Regions from separate parts of the Homo sapiens genome. Here region 2 is linked to region 1. Evidence: fine-mapped expression QTL. A gene starts in region 1. The other region holds a variant in brackets. All regions are shown on one strand. Distances are from middle to middle. Region 1 holds the start of TSPAN14 (tetraspanin 14). Region 2 overlaps TSPAN14 (tetraspanin 14).

Region 1 (10,385 bases):
CCCAGGCCCACTTAAGCTCTGGTCTCCAGGCCTGGCCTGCTGCCTCCTAAAAGAAAACCACAGCCCCACCCAACCCTACCCAACCCCACCAAGCCCAAGGGCGGAGGAAGTGAGGTTCCCAGAATCAGCTGCTGGTGAACACTTGCTGAGTGCCGCCAGAGATGGCAGCTGTCTCACACCAGTGTCAGGCCTAACTCAGGGGCTTTGGATCTTGCTTCTCAGGGTACTAATGCTTCACTGCAACCCCGTGAGACAGAAAAGGCAGACTTGATTCTTCTCACTTTACAGATGAGAAAAGTAGACAACTTTTTTTTTCCAGGAAGAAAAAAAAAAAAAATCAAAGACTTGTGTAGGTCACTCAACTAGAAAGTAGGTGCAACTTGAAAGCTTGCCTCACCACCGTCCACTCTGCAAGCTGGACAGTGTTATTCATCTTCACATCTTCACGTTTAATTGAGAGCGGCACTGGACACTGCCCCCCTGCCAGGGCCTGCGCTCCACCAAAATGGCTACTTGCCCTGTCTAAATCAAAAGCATACGCAATTAAGGGAGAAAATGGATGTGGAGATATTATGAATAACCTCCCTGATTCACAGTTACAGAGGACACTACTATAATGGAAGATAAGCAAACTGAAACGCTGGCATTCACCTAGACCAAAGACTCTCAAAACTTCATTCTACGCAGCTCCCTGGGTACTCTGATAGCCTGCCAAGAGTGAGACCACTGCTGGAGACCACCACCACCTCTCAATCCACTGGCAGAAAAACGGAGGCCCTGGAAAAGGTGGAAATATGCCTAAGCAGAGTGAGTTAACCATGAAGCAGAAGAACCTGAGGCCTCACCACCTCCAACAGTGTCTGCTGGCCCCGAGGGAAATCACCAGAGACCAAGCAGGTGACCAGGCACAAAATCAAGAGCCACAGTGTGGCTGACTCTTCAAAATCCTACTAACGTGGCCTGAGGGGGAAAATTTAACTAACAGGGTTCCTACTCCCTTCTACAGACCAGGGATCTAGCCCCACACTCAATCCCATCCCCAGTGGGAGTCCACCTTCAGTCACCTCGCTACCACTGCTTTCTACACCCCTATGCCTGCAAGCTCAATCCCCGAGTCCCACAAAAGTGGGGAGGACCAGGCCTGCCTGGGTATCGCTACCTGCTCCTGCTTCTAGGAAAGGTGGCTGCCCCTACAGGCCACATCCAGGTAGCGGATGGAACATGCAAGATATCCAAGGACTGACACGGCAGGGCAGAGACAGGCAGCAGGAACCTAATCCCCTTCCCATAGGCATCTTAAAGGCCACCAGGACTCAGTGGCAGGACACAGGGATCATCATGTTCTCTGTCCCTCTGTCCAAGCCACCAGGGGTGTTCCCACTAATCACTATGGGTCCCCCCAGTGAGGACAACATAAAGCAGATAAGTGATGAACATGCAGTGTGAACAAGAAATAAACCTCTGTTGCTTTAAGCCTCTGAGACCTGGGGATTGCTGTTACCACAGCAAACCGTGATCTGTCCAGACAGACACAAGCAGTGACTCCCCAATCTTCTGCATGTGGTAGTGCTGGTCTTCCCATTCCCTGGCCTTAGGGAGACAGAAGCTCCATCACCAATCAGCGGGGGTTCCGGGGTACCTGCTATGTGCCCAGGCTGTGCTGGACAGATGAGATGTGTTCAGAGGCAGGGATACAAGGGCACCTTCACTGAAAACATTCATTAGTTCCACTGTGGGCCAGGCTTGTTTGGTATATGAATCCATTTTAATCACCTCTGAGAGGAACATATTGTCTAAATTAGAAATGAGAAAACCTGGTCCGGCACAGTGGCTCACGCCTGTAATCCCAGCACTTTGGGAGGCCGAGGCGGGCGGATCACTTGAGGTCAGGAGTTCAAGACCAGCCTGGCCAACATGGTGAAACCCCATCTCTACTAAAAATACAAAAATTAGCTGGGTGTGGTGGTGCACACCTGTAGTCCAAGCTACTTGGGAGGCTGAGGCAGGAGAAGAATCACTTGAACCCAGGAGGCGGAGGTTGCAGTGAGCCGAGATCACGCCACTGCACTCCAGCCTGGGCAATAGAGTGAGACTCAGTATCAAAAAAAAAGAAATGAGAAAACCCAGCTCATATTGAGACTTCAAGCAAGTTACTCTGTGACCTCTCGGGACCACAGTTTCCTCATCTGTAAAATGGAGCTGTTGACATCACGGTTGTTTTGCTTTTTGTTTTTTGTTTTTTGAGATGGAGTTTCATTCTTGTTGCCCAGGCTGGAGTGCAACGGCGCGATCTCAGCTCACTGCAACCTCCACCTCCCAGATTGAAGCAATTCTCCTGCCTCAGCCTCCCAAGTAGCTGGGATTATAGGCATGTGCCACCACGCCCAGCTAATTTTGTATTTTTCGTAGAGACAGGGTTTCACCGTGTTGGTCAGGCTGGTCTTGAACTCCTGACCTCAGGTGATCCACCCACCTCGGCCTCCCAAAGTGCTGGGATTACAGGCATGAGCCATCACGCCCAGCCATCACAGCTGTTTTCAAGGATTAAATGAGTTATTACAAGTCAAACTTCTAGGGTGTAAGTCTCAATAAACTCACATTAGTATCACTATGAAATAATCTTGTCCTTCACTAAATTTTAAGCCAGCAAAGGTTTCCCAGGCCTGGCACAATGCCACTTTGCAGGCACTGCTAAAAGGAATTCTACCTCAGTTGAAGTTAAATGGGTCAAATTCCTGAGCACATGGTGGCATAGAGTGAGGCCTCAGGAAATAGTTCCAGAACCCAGGGCTTTCCTGCTCCCCGGCCTCCATGGGAACTTCACTTCACTGCCGCCACAACCTTCAGGGCAGAGCCATCTCCTCTCCCACTTCATACTGCCACTTCCTACATGAGAAGGACCTTCACCAGTCCTCAGAGACTAGCACAGCTGCCCAGCTGGTGAAGGGGACAATTCCCTGGGCAGCCAACCATTCTGCAGCTCCATGCCCTTTCTTCCTGGGGCAGCCACAAACCTTCAGAAGCACCCATGGGCTCAGACCCCCCCCACAACCCCGTCTCCCTAAATGATCCTGCTACGCTGAGATCAAGCTCAGATCAATAAACACTACTGAGCACCTATGCCATGTCCAGCCTGGGTTCTAAGACCACACCAAGTTCATAGCTGGTGAGGGACTTTCCAGACTTGGAATAGTGCCTGCAACAATGCCTCGCACCCCACAGAAATCTCAACCATGCTTTGTTAACTAAACTGAGGATGACATTAGGTGGCCCAAGCAGTGGAGTTCAGAGATGTGGGGATGGATATATCCAGAGTCTCCAACTGAAGTTGGGGTGCAACACAATGAGAAGGAAAGGGAAAATACATCTGGTGGCCCTGGGTTTCCAGGGCCTGTCACTATAACGTTAGGGATCGGAGTGGGATCAGACTGCGCGTGGTGGCTCACACCTGTAATCCCTGTGCTTTGGGAGGCTGAGGTGGGAGGATCACTTGAGCCCAGCAATTTGAGGCTATGATCACACCAGCAGCTAAGGGGATAGAAGGGCATACAGGGCCATTATGGTGGAGTCTGGGCTTCATTCTGGGGGTGCCAGGGCCCAGGAAGATCCCTGGAAAGACGGCCGCCCCCACCAACCACTCGGCTAGCTGAAATGTGGCAAGGACATAGGGGTGCTCCGATGGCCTGTCCCCAGGTTTCCCTTCACAAATAGAGAAGGGTGGCCGGAGCACTCAGCAGGCACTAACTGCTTCTGGACTTCAAGGTCAAGGGGCAAGGGGAAGGCTACTTTTGAGGATTTGGCAGGCCACTCTCTCACTAGCCCAAGAGCAACTCCCTCTCGGAAGGGAGGAAGATCCCCTGGAGAGCAGACCACTGCCAAGAGCACACCTGCAGAGGCTCCAATACAATGCTCTGCACAGCCGCCCAGCACCGCCTGACCTCCCGGATAGCAGCGCCAGCACAGCCAACGAGTGTGTGACACCGCCGCACTCACCACCGCTCTGCGCCCAGCCCCAGGCCAGTACCCGGGCCCACGACTTCCCCCGACTCCCCCTAGCACGGACTGTTTCTCGCCGGAGATCAACTTTAAGTCCCCAAGACAAGTGCTCCTGCGGTCCCAGGGCCAAAGTCCCTCCACACACCCTCACACAGGCACTTCCTACCCACCCGCACCCCACCCCTGGGGGTGGAGGAGAAGCAGCAGCGGCCCGGGACAAGCACAGTCCGCAGCCACAAACCTCACTCTACCAGAACTCCGGCTAGGTCAGGGGTCAGGCTTTGCTCCCAAACACAACCCCACACGACTAACGCGGAGAAGCTGGGTCACCGCCTACTCAAACTCCGGCCGTCCCAAACCCAAGCCGGGCAGAGTGGGACCCACGGCGGCGTGGGAGACTGAGCACAACCACGGCGGGGCAGGAGGAAGGGGCGGCCCGCCCCGGCCTACGCCCACCCCCACCCCGGACCCGATCTCCTGGGAGCCGAGGGTGGGTGACTGAGCCGAAAGGGTGGCCCATCCCCGAGCTCGCTGCTGGGGACGAGAAGCAGAGCCCCGAGCAGCAGCGGCCGTCCAGGCTCCCGTCGCCCTCACCCCGCCCGGCACGGGCGCGCACTCGCCGGGGCGCGCTGATGGGGCGAGGGCTACCGAACCAGGAGTGCCGGCCCCGGGCCCGCCGCGGCTCTCGTCCGCGCGGCGCCGGAGTTCGGCTCAGCGGGGTCCCGGCGGAGGCCTCCAACCTCTAGCGAGCAATCCTGGCAGACAAAGCCAGCGCCGCCCGCGGGGCCGCTCCTGGGCAGGCGGGGAGGGAGGCTGAGGGGCCAAACAGGGACCTAAGGAGCAGCCCTCGCCCCCGGAGAACGCTCGGGGAAGTCGGCCTCAGACAAAGAAAGGGGCAGGGCCCGACGCCCCAGCCAGGTCTCCGCGCTCTACTCACCCGCGCGCGGCGGCGGCAGCGGCGGCGCGGCCCGGCTCGGCCGAGGAAGTTAGAGCAAGTTCCGCGGCGCGGGGCGGGAGGGCGCGACTCGGGCCGTCCGAGCGGCGGGGGCGGGGCGCGGAGGGGCGCGGAGGGGCGGGGCCGGAGGCGCGGCGCCTGCCGTCTGCCGAGGAAGGGGCGCCGCTTCCCTGCGCCGCCCGGTGCGGCCCCGGGCGCCTGGGCCCGCCCTGGCCCCGCCCCTCCCCCAGCCGCCTCGCCCCTCCCCCACCGCACCCCGCCTCCCGGCCCGCGCGGCACCGGGGACCGCGAGGCCGGGTCGCCGGCCCGCCCCTTTGTCCCGCTCTGGGCGGTGCCGGAGGCTTGGGGCGGCCCCGGTCCGCGCCCTCCCAGTGGGTGCGCGGCGCAGGCCGGGCCTGGCCCGGGGCCGGGCACTTGTAGCCGCCGGGAGCGCTCTGAGCCGTTGCGCTGCGCAGACGCCGCTCTGGCCTTGTCGGAGCCGAACCTGGGAGAAGCACGAGCTGTGGGAGGCGGCGTCTCGAGGGATACACGGGATGACCGTGGAGAGCGGGCGAAGGATTAGGAAAATGGCTGTGGTGGAGATAAGAGGCGTTCCTGCCCGGCTTTGGAGCCTGGGGGCGGGGGTAGTCTTCAATCAAAAGAAGGATGGGGAAAAGGTTTTTATTTCTTTGTAAACCAAGGAGTAAGGACACGCTCCTTCTGGCCTTGGTGCTAAAAATACCAAGCTTTCTTTGGATCGTGGCTGAGATTTCTTCCTAACCTTTACGCTAAAGAGGTGGCTGGGACGATTCTTGTGGTGTAGGGGGGTTTCCAGGGACAGCCAGGGGTGGCGCCCCTCTTTGGATCGTGGCTGAGATTTGTTCCTCACCTTTACGCTAAAGAGATGGCTGGGACGATTCCTGTGGGGTAGAGGGGTTTCCAGGGATAGCCAGGGGCGGCTCCCCAGCCTCAGCCTCCCTACCTGTAGAATGAAGCATGCCACACCTCTGTTTCTTAAACTTATTCGGTGGCTGAGGGCCGAGTGGTCTTCTCTGTTGAGTAACACCAAACAGGGATCTATTAAAACTGGGCTAAGACTGGTTGCCACATGCCAGTACAAGCAACCAACAGGTTAATTCCAATGGAAGGAGGAAATCTTGAAATGGAGACTGTTCAGTCCATTCCCAGGTTTGTTTGGGTTGTTTTTTGAGCTAAGGTATCGCTTTGTCACCCAGGCTGGAGTGCAGTGGCATGACCATGGCTCACTGCAGCCTCGACCTCCCGCCTCAGCTTCCCCAAGTAGCTGGGACCACAGGTGCAGGCCACCACACCTAGCTAATTTTTTTTTTTTTTTTTTTGTAGAGACGAGATCTTGCTGTGTTGCCAGTGATGGTCTTAAATTCCTGGGCTTAAGCAATCCTTCCGCCTCTGCCTCCCAGAGTGCTGGAATTACACGCATGAGCCACGGTGCCTGGCTAATTTTATTTGTTTGTTTAATTAAGAGGGATGCAACCTGTCTGTGACAGCCCAGGCAGCTCTGGAAACTCCCTGGGAACCTGTCCATTCATTCAGCAGATAGTGAGTGTTTGTCTGAGTGCCTGATAATATGCCAGGCCCTGTGTGCATGGTGGGATACTTCAGTGAACAAGACAGCTGAGGCCTTTTGCCCAATAAAGTTAATTTTTAGTGGAGAAGACAAATACATAATCACAAGTTGAAGTAAAGGCTGGGACAAAAACAAGGGGCTAGAATAGAGAATAAAAGCTACCTTAGATGAAGCAGTCAGGGAAAGTGAGGAGGCGATGCTGAAATTGAAGTCAAAAGAGTAAGGAGTTAGCCTTGGGAAAAGTTGGGCAGAGACATTCCTCGCTGAGAGCAGTAGGTGCCTTTTCAGGGTAAGTTCTGGATGGGTCAGGGAACTGAAAGAAAATCAGTGTGGCTGAAGTTTTAAGCCTAGGGGAAGAGGCCCAGGATGGAGTGAGAAGGTGGGTGGGGGCCAAAGCATGCAGGGCCTGTGGGCTGTGTCAAAGAATGGAGACTTTGTTGAGCCTTGGAAGGGTTTTATGCAGAAGACTAACATGTTCTGATTTAAGGCTGTGTGTGGGTGTCAGGCAAAAATAAAAGCAGGGAGCCAATTAGGCTTGCCACAATCCAGGCCAAAGATGATGGTGGTTTGAACCAAAGTGGTGGTCATGCTAAGATGAGTAGTTGAGAGATGCTATTTTGGACTTAAGAGGACACATTGATAGGAAGGACATGGGGGCAGGAAATGGAGAAACCAAAGATAACTCAAGTTTCTGGCTGGGGTAAGTGGGTGGATAGTGCTTCATTTATTGGATCAAAAAGCATGAACCACATCTCAGGGAGTTACATCAGGAATTCTGTTCAAGCCACATGGAGCTTCAGATGCCTGTTAGAGAACCAGCGGGGTTATCTCATCACTAGGAACTCAGAAGAGAGGCCAGGGCGGGAGAGGGGCTTTGGGATACATCAGCATAAAGATGCTCAAGGCCACGGGATCTGAGAAGGACACACAGGGTGAGGGAGTAGATGCAGAAGAGGAGAGAGTTCAGGAGGGACCCAGGGGAACCAAAGCAGGCAAGAAGACTGAAAAAGAGACTGGGGAGGCAGAAGGAGAATCAGGAGTATCCCAGAGACTGAGAAAATGTTTCCAGAAAGCAGTTGTCAGCTGTGTTAGACACTGCTTAGAGATCAGGTAAGATGAGGACTGGGACCTGTTGGCTCTGGCAACATGAAGGCAATTGGTGAACATGATGAGGGCAGTGTTCCTGGAGTAGTGGTGGAAGCCATGCTGTGGTAGAGCTACCATATTTGCACAACTTGTCTAACAGGGAATGGAGAACTGGGAGGGATCTAGAAAGGATACGGAAGCATAGGATGCTTTGGTAGAGATTGCTAGATGCCCCTAGTAGTAATTCTCTCTTCCCTTCATAGAATTTCTAATTCTGTCTGGCCACATGGCTTCCCAGAATAAAGGCAAGTTTCTCAGCCTCTCTTGCAGCTACACTTCATTCCTCCCAATAGGAAGTAAGTGTAGGAGTCCATGTGCAAATTCAAAACTGGCTTTAAAGGGAAGTCATGTGCTTTACTCTTTCCTGCCCACTAGGATATATTAATAGATAGCTGGAGCTCAAGCATCCATATTGGATCTTAAGTGGAAGCCAAAGTGTTGAGGATGTTAGTGGAAGTGAGAATAAATGTGGATGCTAATGTGTAGGGAGCCACCACACATTTGGACTACTACCTCTTGACTTTCTTTATGGGAGAAGGACATTTCTGTCTTGTTTAATCCTCTGTTTTATGGCACATGTAGCCACATCTAATTCTAACATTTGTTGGAATAAAGAGGGGTTTGTTAAAATATGGGAGTCACTGAAGCAGGCTTGCACACTGATAGGAATGATCTAAGAAGAAGGCAGGGGCCATGATAGGAAGAGCAGGTGAAAGGAGATAGGGTATAGGCACTAACGAGGGTCACCTCCTACAAAGGGACGCCTCCACCATCATTAAGGAGAGGAGTGTGGAGGCCGAGGAGAGGTTTCCGGTAAAGGCTGGGATTGGGAAGATGATTACTCACACCTGGTGATTTCTGCTCAATCCTGCATGTGCAGGAGGTCATGAGCTAGAACAAGGAGGAAGGAGATGGGGAAGCCAGTTTTGCAAACCATGGACTGAGCGGTTTTGGAGATCTTGCTGGCCTGAGCAGCGTCTGGGAGATGTGTCCTTTCTGGAATAGTTGGCCACACTGCTGCTATGAAAAGTGTGGTGGGAATACCCACAAAGCCAGCATGGCCTTCCCTGCCATGCCCCAGACAGTCACATCTGACACTCACCTGCCATTCCCAGCTGTAGCAGAGACCCACAGAGCTTTATCTGACCCATTCTTTTTTTTTTCCTTTGAGACGGAGTCTCACTGTGTCACCCAGGCTGGAGTACAATGGCGTGGGCTCACTGCAACCTCTGCCTCCTGGATTCATGGGACTATAGGCACGTGCCACCACACCCAGCTAATTTTTTGTATTTTTATTAGAGGTGGGGTTTCGCTATGTTGGCCAGGCTGGTCTTGAACTCCTGACCTCATGACCTGCCCACCTTGGCTTCCCAAAGTGCTGGGATTACAGGCGTGAGCCACTGTGCCTGGCCTATCTGATCCATTCTTACAGCAACATGGAGTGGCTTGAGAGAGCCTCAGAGACACGAAATGCAAAACAGGTCTATTTTATTCTCCTTTATTAAAAAATAAAAAATTCAATATAGACAGCCCCAACTCATAAAAGGGTTGTATTGTAACCAGTGGTTTACCTTCCTGGCTAGCACCTAGAACCATAATTGCCAAGCATATAACTGAATTGTAGTGCAGACTGCAAGCCTAATGTATGGACTGTGGGAACAAAAAACAGTATAGGAAGGAGGAAAAGAAAAAAGCTGAGAGTTTCTTATCTTTTTCCTGGACCTGAAGCTGCCACAGATAAAATTGTAAGTGGAAGAGCTTGCCCTTTGTCTTCCCCTGACTTCTATAGCCCTCTGTGTCGGTCCCCAGTGCTGCACTCCCACCCTGGGCTCCACTCTGCAGCCTCTGTGTGTGTTTACAGGGCAATGGGCAGGTCAGGGTGAGATTGAACAGAAGAGGGAGTTGGTGTCCAAGCTCTCCTAGTTCTCAACATGATCTTGAGCAAACCACTTTACATTCCTGAGCCCTGCTGTTCTTATCTGTAAAGTCAAGGTAATACTAAAACCCACCTCACAAGCTTGTAATAAAAATCCAAAGAGATAAAGTTTGTAAAACTTCGAAAAATACTGGGTAAGCTGTAAAGAACTCTGTTACCCAGGAAAGATGTCTTATTAGGACCAGACTACCAAGGATTAGTCGGGACATTTTGGCTGGAAATGAGAACCCCACTCAGACTAGCTTAGGTCATCAAAGGGGAGATACTGGAAGGAGCCTCAGATTGCTCACAGAATTGAAAGAAGAACTTGAAACCAGAGTGACACAAAACGGGGCTGATCCTGACAACGTCCCAGAACGGGGGCCCTACCCTCTGTTTCTCCTAGTTCTCAGAGTTTGCCATGTCAGGTATGTGACTGAGTAAGTCTACACTCTTAAGTCGGTATGAACAAATCTCAAGAAAGGATCGACCGGGCATAGTGGCTCATGCCTGTAATCCCAGCACTTTGGGAGGCCAAGGCGGGCGGATCACTTGAGGTCAGGAGTTTCGGACCAGCCTGGCCAACGTGGTGAAACCTCGTCTGTACTAAAAGTAGGAAAATTAGCTGGGTGTGGTGGCGCATGCCTGTAGTTCCAGCTACTCAGGAGGCAGAGGTGAGAGAATCGTGCTTGAACAGGGGAGATGGAGGTTGCAGTGAGCTGAGATTGTGCCATTGCACTCCAGCCTGGGCGACAGAGGAAGACTCCATCTCAAAAAAAAAAAGAAAA
Region 2 (10,385 bases), 48 kb before region 1:
CACCTACGCTACAAGTTCCTCCTAGGCAGCCACCAGGCTTCTTCTGCAGCCTGTGGGGTGCCTATTCCAGGCCTGGAGGGAAACGGGGCCCTGTGGCCTGTGGTCAAACTGGTCACCCAGGTGGCTGACCTTGTTAGTCCCCCAATTTGGCACCTAATTAATGAAGAACACTACTCTTCTGAGATGAAAACAGCCTCAATATGAACACTCTAGTAGAAAACACGCCCAAGGGCAGGCCAAAGCAATGCTGTCCATAGAAGTTTCTACACCAATGGAGGTGTTTTAGACTATACCCCCACTGTCTGGCCACAGGTATCGTGGAGCACTTGAAATGTGGCTAATGAGACAGAAGGACTGAATTTTAATTTATATTCAATTTCAATTTAAATATAAACACAGTCACACAATGGGCAGAGCAGTTCCATAGGGTTTGTAAAACGCCAAGGGGGAAGCTAAGCCCTGGAGACTGAGTCATGTAGCATGTTTGCAATTCTGTTTCTTAGATTATGGTTGAACTAAGGGACCGGAGAGACCACAGCCCCCCTTCCAGTCACTGATCTCTGTTATAGTTTAACTGCTTCCTTCATTGTTCTTTACTAACTCAGATCAGATATCATCTAAGACCCAGGGACAATTACATCTTCAGTGTGGAATGTTAAACATACCTTTCCTGAAAGAAAAAGACCGCCTCAACTAATCAGAACATTGTGACTAAGCATCAAGACATACATAGGTGTCTGGGCATGGCGGCTCACGTCTGTAATCCCAGCACTTTGGGAGGCCGAGGAGGGCAGATCACTTGAGGCCAGGAGCTCAAGACCTGCCTGGCCAACATGGCAAAACCCCATCTCTACCTAAAAATACAAAAATTAGCCAGGCATGGTGGCACATGCCTGTAATCCCAGCTATTTGGGAGGGTGAGGCACAAGAATCTCTTGAACCAGGGAGGCGGAGGTTGCAGTGAGCCAAGATCCAGCCACTGCGCTCCGGCCTGGGCAACAGAGTCTCTGTCTGGCTTTGGCTGGATAAATGATCCCAAGCTCCTACATTTCGAACAGGAAGGCTGACTTCCATTCTTTGGAATTTGTGCTTCCTGGGTAGGCCTGTCCTCAACATGTGTGCTTGAATAAACTCTCTCTAAACTAGGTTCTGGCCTTTTCACTTATTTTAGATCGACAGATTCAAAGGAATTGTAGTAGCCAGCTCCACACTCAGGGCCACACCCAGTTAGGCGGCTGCAGTCCCAGGGGAAGCCACACGGTGGTGCTGTGAGGCACAGATTGAACCTGCTTCTGGGTCACTGGGGCAAAGGGACATCGTACCCCAGCTCTTGCCCTTTAGGGGTTCACAGGCCACTTGGAAGGTGCCCAAACCTGAAGGTGGGCCTTATCCAGTCCCTAAGACCATGGCAGGAAAGCCTGTAGACCTAGGTTCTCCTGCCTCCTCCTGCTGGAAGCAAAGGGAGGTTCCACTGAAGGAAGAAGGCCTAGGCTCAAGACACTAGAGGAAGCTTTATTCCTGGCTCTTTCTGGCCAGGCCTGCTCCACCTTACTGCTTCCCTCCCCTCCCCTCTTCCCTCCCTGGCCTTTTTCAGCCCTCACTGCCTCCCCAGCACCCCTGCCACAGGGCAACAAGCAGCAGCACAGCCCCACCCTGCCCATATCCAGTCTCATCCCCTTCCTGGAGCCGCAACTGCACCATGTCCTTCCCGACAGTAGGAGCCAGGTCTCCACTCCTCCCCTCTCCTCCTGAGGCTGGGCAAGGAGGCCCAGAGGTGCTTAAAGGCCCACCCCTGCCCCACAGGGCACCCTGGGGGCATGTCACCCAGCCCCGCTCCCTGCTGCCTGCTCTTTCTCATCCTGGAGGATAAGGGCTTCCACAATAAGCATGCCTGTATTCAGGGACCTGCCCGCTTGCTCCCAGAGGCACAGACAGGGTCAGGAAGCTGGATTGCCCAAGCCTGCTCTGGGCACAGCTGCATACAAGAGCTGAGCTCTCCACATCCACAGGGCTCAAAACCCAACCAGCCCAGCCCATACCTCCAGCAGCCAATACTATCATGTGGGCAGAGTACGCAAGAGCTGTGTCTGTAAAGATTGACAATTATACACCTTGACACTGCACAAGAAATGCTTGTTGTCAGGGAACAGATTGGAGGAGGGAAAATGAAGTCCAACGAATCTGGTTTTGGCTGCCTGAAGCTCAGTGTCCTGCGACAGTTACACCTACCTTTTCGCTCCATGCCCACAGCCCGACTCCAAGGAAGACAACTCCAGCCAACTAAGCGGGGCAGAGGAAAGAGAGAAGGAAGTTAGGTTGGAAACCAGCACTGTGAACATGCTTCACAGAGCAAAGTCCACACTGCCAGGTAGGGCATGCTCCTAGCTCACATCCCACATGGCCCCTCAGGCCCCGCAGATGACAGATAACCTGAACCTACCTTCCTGAATATCTGGACAAACTCCTTCAACCTCAGATGACCCTATGCCCCAGGGAAGGAAGAGGAAAAGATCTCAGAGCGGACTCCACCCTGGAGAGACTATGGGTCACAGACATCAGGCTGTGCTGCTTCTTCCCCTTTCTGCAACCCTGAACTCATTTCAGTGCACTATCTGGTGTATACGAAGACATCACCCCTTGGGAGGGCTGACCCAGGTCCCCTCAGAGGTTCCCAACACAGGATGAGACTGCATAGGACCAGGCACCACCACAGGGTGAGGACAGGGGGAAACAGCCCAGCATCTCTGCCACACACCCCAGCTCTCCAGCCCTGGAGATAGACTCCAGGCACAGATAAGCAGCTATCCAGTGGCCCAGGCCATTCACTGGCCAGGGCTGAGCCTCCTCCCTACTGTTAACTACAATGAGCAGGGGGCGCATCTATGCTCAGGAAAGGCTGGGCTTTTAGCTAGAGAATGAAAATAGGCTTGCTCTAAGCAATGAGCTCGCCCCAGAGGAGCACCACCCCCAACCCCAACTTCCCACCTGCAGGAACCCATACCCCATGTGCACCACAACAGAAAGGCGCCCACCCAAATACATCACACAGGTTCCTGAACCAGGGAGGGCTTTTCCATATACAACAAAACACAACGTGGGCTCTGTTAATAAAGCTGCCTCCTGTTTTTCTGTGACTACTTTACACCACACTGGCATTTCACTGCCATTTATCACCATCTCACGATAAATAACAGGACCACGCTTCTCTATGACTACCGGTGATCTCAAGCCTTGAGCCACTTCTACCTATTTTACTCAGTAACTAGCCCCAGGGGCTAGAATGGAAAGAAAGGGCTCAAGGAAAGCCCCAGGAAGTCTCATCCAACCTGAAAGTGATCTGTGATCCAACCTCTTCTGGATCACAGATCACTTTCAGAAAATGCACACATGCCCAGTATTTTGCATGAAATTTTAGAGGGGTCACAGCTTCCCACTGCTGGCTCCCACAATGGTCTGTGAACACTAAGTAAAGAACCCCCACCAAGAACCAATCCCTCCATTTTACAAAAGCAGAGCACTGGGGCCCAGGGAGGGCCAAGACCAAAATGTCAGGCAGTGGGGAGAAGGGCTGAATCACAAGTCTCAGTTCATTCATTCACTCCTCACTCATTCATTCAACAAATATTCACGGAGTACATCCCGAGTGCCAGATACCGTCTCAAGTACTGGATACAGCACCAAGCCAAGGGGGTAGAGCCCTTTCTACCATATCACACCACACCCTTTTCCCGCTTCTCAGTCCTCCCCCTGAACTGACTAGCTGGGAAGGGTTTTCCTGATAGAATGCATGACCGCTTCCTTTCCCTCCCCAGGTGTCTTACACTGGCATGCTGAGCAACCTGAAGGTGACTGGTCACCACCTGCCGAATCCTGCAGGCTCCATCCCCACCCATCTTATTCAAGGCCCCCAGGGACCTGCCTCCCTCTTGCCAAAGCTGGAGGCCAAGACTTTTCCTCATGGTATCTGACCTCATTGGTCACAGCTGGTCATTCTCTCCTCCTCCAACCATTCCACTGACACACCCTGCTTCGGGGACCCCAAGCATATGCCCCTGACTGCCTTCCTCCCTGCTCTTCCTCCTCCTCCTCCTTCAGACCCCTCTAGATGCTGGTGGGCCTCACTCACAGTCCTAGCTCCTTCACCCTGCCCTGAGCCCTCTCGATGATCTCATAATTCACAAGGCTTAAATACCATCTAAACATTGCTGAGTGACACACTCAGATGTCCAGTCCTGGCCATGCCCCCGGTCAAATACCCTAATGTCTACTTTACTTGTCCTCCTAAGACAGCTAACGATATTTTACTCTTACTGTGCCCCACTACGCAGCCTTGGTCCCCCAACCCCAACCGAGCTC[C/A]CCCCAACTCTTCTCCGTCTCATTCAGTGGCACCACCGTCCACCCAGCAAGTGTAAGAGAGAAAACCCAGACCCCAGGCTTGGTGCCTTCTTTCTCTTTTGCCCTACACTCAACCCAGAGGACCCTCTGCTGGTTCTGCCTCCAAATACACAGTGCATTCGACCAGCTTTCCTCCAGTGTCTCTGCTCCCACCTGCCCCGGCTCCACCCACTCGAGTCTGGATCCCACGGGGCTCCTCACTGGTCCAAGCAACAAGACTGACCCTTCAAAAATACAGAGCTGGGAACTCCCCTCCTCGAAACTCTGCAGTGACTTCCCACGCAGACCTAGAAGAAAATGCACGGTCTCTCCCATGGCCCCCAAGGGCCTCTGCAGCCAGGCTTCACACACATCTCCCACGGCATCTCCTTCCCACCTCCCTGCTCCAACGCCACTCCCTGGGCCACCCTGACATTCTTGTTTCTTGAAGTCATCAAAATCACCCCTGCCTCAGAGCCTGGACACTGTTCCCTCAGCCGGCAATGCTCTTCCTCCATATCCATTCCTGGCTCCTCCCTCACTGCGTTCAAGGCCTCCTTTTACCACCCTGAGTGGAACTGCTCCCCATCCTCCATGTGTGACCTCCTCTGTTGATTTTCTTCGCGGCACTGATCCCAGACCACAGGGGCTGTCTCTCTATTGTGTCTCCCCAGCTAAGCCCTTCTGAGGCCAGAGATGTTACCTGTTTTGTTCAGAGTTGCAGCCCAACAACGAGGAGGGCTTGGCCCTCAGTAGGCACAGAGCAGGCATGAGTGACTCCCCAGGATTCAAGACCAGGACAGTGCTTGCCTGGGTCCTTCTAGCTACCCCCAGGCACACTTCTGGGTGTGATTCAATCCAAAGGCATTCAGAGCAAATGTGGGCCAAGAAAAGCTCAGCCTGGCCCAGGTGCATGGGTCAAGCTCTATACAGGGGCATTTGCCTATGGTCAGAGCAGAACAAGCCCAGAGGCCGATGCCCCATCCAGCATTCCCAACAGACATTCCAGCCCCTGCCTAACAGCTTTCCATGACAGTCCGCTCATCCTGTGGGGCCACATGGGACAGGTGAGAAAAGTCTACCTTAAGGACACTCAACAAAACCACTGCTGGAGCTCCCCTCTCTCCTCCACACTGCACTTCACAGCTCACCCCTTCTCTCACCTTGACTACTAAGTCTGACTTCTAAGGGTATTGTTTCCCACATTAATACCAGCCTCAGGCTGAGAACAGTGGCTCACAGCAATTTGGGAGGCTGAGGCAGGAGGATTGCTTGAGCCCAGGCGTTCAAGACCAGCCTGGGCAACATAGCAAGACCCCCATCTCTTAAAAAAAAAAAAAAAAAAAAGGTTTTCTAAAAAAATTAGCTGTAAAAAAAAAAATGCCTGTATTCCCAGCTACCAGGGAGGCCGAGGTGGGAGGACTGCTTGAACTTGGGAGGTCAAGGGTGAGATTGCACCACTGCACTCCAGCCTGGGTGGTAACAGAGTAAGACCAGGTCTCCCAAAAAAAAAGAAAAAAAAAAAAAACAGCGTCAGTTCCATCTATATTAATAGGTTTCTGTGAATTCACGCTGAGGTGCTGTTTTAGTTGTTTTGTTCTCCTAGGTGACTAAATAGTGACTAAATAGATACAATAGGAAGAGGTGACTGGTTTCACAAAAGGAATTTTGGTCTGCACAAGTTCTCAAAAAAGACCCTCGACCTCAAGAGCAGTTCATATCCCCACCCTCAGGGGCACAGTGCCCATGCAAAGGTAGGCCTGCTCCTGCTCACCTCTGTTCCAATCGCCCCTTCCCCACATGCAGGGCCGCTGTAGGGCCGCTTACCGCTCTGCATATGGCCCACAGACCACACCCTCCCTCGCTTGCTGTTCTTCTCAAGGCCCCCAGGGAAAGCCCTGGCTGACTCTGTGTTTACTGGGGAAGCCAGCTCCCCACCACTGCGTGCAGTTCTCTTTCTCTCAGCTCTAAGAATAAGGACTTGGCCAGGCGTGGTAGCTCATGCCTGAAATCTCGGCACTTTGGGAGGCCGAGTGCTGGGAGGCCCAGCACTTTGGGAGGCGGATCACCTGAGGTCAAGAGTTTGAGACCGGCCTCACCAACATGGAGAAACCCCATCTCTACTAAAAATAAAAAATTAGCCGAGCGTGGTGGCACATGCCTATAATCCCAGCTACTCAGGAGGCTGAGGCAAGAGAATCACTTGAACCTGGGAGGTGGAGGTTGCGGTGAGCCAAGATCACGCCATTGCACTCCAGCCTGGGCAGCAAGAGCAAAACTTCGTCTCAAAAAAAAAAAAAAAAAAAAAAAAAAAAAAAAGAATAAGGCCTTGTGTTGTTTTCATTCTGTTTTAAAGGAAGAACTAAAGTTAACTCACACCGGAAAGACAGGAACTTGGGGATCACATGTCAGATCATGGGTTCAATGAACAGTGGCCCAGGGCAGGAACTCTGAGTACCAACAAACCTGGTTTCAGAGACCAGGAGATTGAGGGAGGACTAGACAGGGGAAGTGATCTGCCTGAGAGCTCACATAACGGTCCCATGAATGAACTGGGTCATTGGCCCGCTTCACCCCACGGAACCCTTCCCTGGAACTCTGCAGCAGATGGTCCATGGGGCCAGGCCAGGTAAGCCCTGGCTGCTGTGAGCCCTGGCTGCCAATCTTCTGGGAGTGAGGGTTCAGCTGAGTGCCCTCCAGCCTCAAGTGACCTTCTTTGTCTCCCTCCCATGACCTAATTGAATTACCTACTGAAGAACGGGGCCCAGCTCCGGCCCAGCTTGAGGAGAGGCCAGCCTCCTCTGCTGGACCAGCGAGCACCTAAACTGCTATGGTCACTGTGAATAGCTGCCCTTTCCTGGGAGCTGTGCGCTGCATTAAATACTTAATGGACCTAAGGCTATCCCTCCATATCCCATAACTCTGGCTCAATTACCCTCATTTTTCACATGGGAAAGCTCAAATGTAGAGCAATTTGGTCCTTTGCCCAAGGTCACACGGCTAGCTGGTGGCAGACTTAAGAACCAAACCTGGATGCCTCTGACCCTGGCAACACAGTATCTTACCACCCACAGAGCAGCTGCCTTCCACACACGGGCACTCACACAAGAGCCCGGGGATGTAGGAATTCCACAGGGGGGCTTTGGGGTTGTGCAGCTCTACAGCCAAATGACCCACACTGTCAGGCAGTGAGACCACGCTGTGTCCCAACCAGGGCAGGTGGACAAGGCAGCAGGGCCTCTTTGTGGGTCACTGTGAAGATTAAATATTGACCTTTCACCTTAGGCAAATGACCTTGCGAAAGGCAGGAGGTCCTCTTGGGGCACTCTGGGCTGGTCCAGCCAGAGTCCAGACACAAGAAATCCACTTACCACACGAGCAAGCTTGTGGTACTTTACCCAAGCACAATCAAGTCACAAAAGGAAGTGACACCCGGCCAGGCCCTGCTGAACTGGAGGAGAAAGATGCAGCTCCAAGCAGGTCAAAGGCAGCCTCTCACCCATGATTTAATGGCCTTGGCTCCTTGCAAGATTTCATTTAAGCGTGTATAAAAGTACTTGGCAACTCCTGCAGGCCCCAGAGGCCTTTCCTCAGCAAGATCAAGGCGAATCACCAGCAGCAGGCGATGCTCTCAGGCTCTGCCCTGCTGGCCTCCGGGTCTTGCACAATCCACACGCTGACTCAGCCTGACATTCACAGAGCCTCTTCCCCTGAACAAAGCCGGCCCTGGGTCCAGTCTCTGCTTTGTAGCTACCTAGTGACAGGGCCTCATGCGAGTCCAAGACCTTCTCTGAGCCTATGTTCTCTACAAAACAGGGATTATCTTTCCTAGGTCACAGGAAGGTTGTAAAGATTGAAGGAAGATCCTACGTGACATGCTTACTCCAGGCACAGAGCCAGTCTCAAGGTGGCCATGCCCTCCCGCACGGCAGACAGAGCAGAGATGTGAGGGGCGTTCAAGGATATGCCACAAGCATCTGCTGTCCTGAAGACAGAGTCTCCTTCTCTTGACACTGGTGTTCTGTACCCCACCCCCAATTACTTCCAGCACCAGCTTCTGTCCTAAGACCAAGTGCTTTCCAGAGGCACCTGTTTTACTGGGCTTCTGGAGACAACAGTGAAGCAGAGCTTAGGGAAATACGGCCTTCTGGAGGCTTTTCAAGTGAGGTAGGAAAGGATGATGGAAAGAAAACAGCAGAGAGTGGAGGAAGCCAGGACTGAGTCTCAGCTTTGTCCCTAACTCACAGAGTCAGGGTCTCGAGGAAGCCATCCCTCTCCTGGGCCTCAGTCTGTCAATCAGCAAAATAAGCAGCAAGGACCCATGCACCTCCCACTGGCTGAGTTTTGCCATTATAAATTACACCAGACGGAAACCCCAGGGTCCTGGTACTCTCCAGAATAAGAAATCCTGAATCCAGGCCTGGGGCATTCAGGAAACAACAGAGATGCTTGTGGCCACTTGAAATGCTGACGATTGAATAGAATTTGAAGCCAAAAAGGACCAGAGGGTGCAGACCCCAGACCCAACCTGGCCTGAGAGCCCAGTGGGCCAAGGGAGGAGCTGCAGTTATCTGTCCTGTGTTGAAAGCCTGAACCAAGCCACTTGTCAGTGGGAGTTCGGAAGGTCTGGGAGCCAGAAGGGATGCTAGGGCTCGGCTTCCTTATGACAGAGGGAAACAGAGCCCAGAGCAGGAGGTGCCTTGCATGGGGTCACATAGCTATCACACCCCAGCTTTTCCTCCTGCCGGAAGGGTGGTTCTGAGAAAAGGCAACACATGTGCCCTCCCAGCAGAGCCAGCAAACCCATGTGAGGGCCCCAATGTGGGGAAGGACTGTGCAGAGGGCTCCAGGGGCAGCTTCCACAGCTGTCTCTGTGTTGCCAGATAACAGAGTTGACCCCCACTGAGCCCCGCCCAGGAACCTGAGTCAAGGCCCTGGAAATGAAGGCAGGCGGAGGGAGCACAGCCATTCAAGGGAGGTGATAGGCAGTACCCCCAGGAGAGAGGGAACCCCCCAACCTAACTTTGGCACAGTTCACAGTGATTAACAGTGGGTAGAAAATCAAGATACTAAGGCAGTGGTCAGCATTTCTGTAAAGGGCCAAATAGTAAATATTTTCAGCTTTGTGTGCTGGATGATCCCCGTAGCAATTACTCAACTCTGCTGTTATAATGGGAAAGCAGCCATAGATAATACATAAATGAATGGGTGTGGCTGTGTTCCAATAAAATTGTATGTGTAAAAACAGGCGGAAGGCCAGGTTTGGCCTGCAAGCCATAGTCTGAAAAGCTCAGCTGTAAACTATCACACTAAAACCATCTGGACCTGGAGAGGAAAGATGGGATGTCATCCTGCTCAGCCACACAAAGCCTGGGATACCCTATACTCAGGTCTCCAACACTGGTATGTTTTTATATCACTGTAACAGGTCTTAATAGCCTAAAACTGTAAATAACACAAATTATATATCCCCACAATAGAATATTACACAACAAGAATAAATGATCTACAACTACGTATAACTGCATGAATGAATCTCACATATGATATTAAATGAAAGATGTCAGACACAAAAGACTTAATACTGTTAGGGAAGAATACTTAGTAGAAAAACTATAACTAATATCCAATCAAAAGTTACTAGATAGGCAAGAAAAGGAAAGAAGTGAGCTATAAGAGAAAAAATTCAGTAAATAGAAGACACAAGAATGACAAAGAAGATGAAATCCCAACAACTTCAAAACAAGTATTGCAAATATGTTCAGGAATTTAAAGGAAAATATAAATAAGATAAGGAAAGAAATTGGAGACATAAAAAATACCTAAATGTAACGACTAGAAATAGAAACTACAATATTAGAATTGAAGACTTCACTAGATGGGTTTAACAGCCAATGAGACAGTATGGAAGAAAAGATCAGTAAAGCTGAAGACAAAGCTATGGAAACTAAAGGAGAATGGTAAAACACTCAACAAAATAAAAAACTAAACCGAGCCTCTGTGCCCTAGAT

What was found. PIP is the estimated chance that this variant, and not a neighbour inherited with it, causes the effect.
Region 2: its variant is fine-mapped to the expression of TSPAN14 in whole blood (GTEx, PIP 0.96).

Annotation. Positions count from the first base shown.
Region 1 is chr10:80,448,920-80,459,304 of GRCh38, reverse strand. TSPAN14 (tetraspanin 14) reads right to left here and starts at 4,995. Exons shown (of 9, transcript NM_030927.4): 1 at 4,934-4,995. RefSeq lists enhancers at 1,083-1,162, 3,880-3,929, 3,960-4,219, 4,169-4,686, 5,430-5,639 and silencers at 4,350-5,399, 9,418-9,712.
Region 2 is chr10:80,496,623-80,507,007 of GRCh38, reverse strand. TSPAN14 (tetraspanin 14) reads right to left here. Exons shown (of 9, transcript NM_030927.4): 3 at 2,230-2,280. Among named protein-coding and RNA genes, the nearest start is that of TSPAN14-AS1, 34 kb to the left of the region's middle. RefSeq lists a silencer at 6,881-7,175 and an enhancer at 8,691-9,654. The variant C/A (reference allele first, on the strand shown) is at 4,357.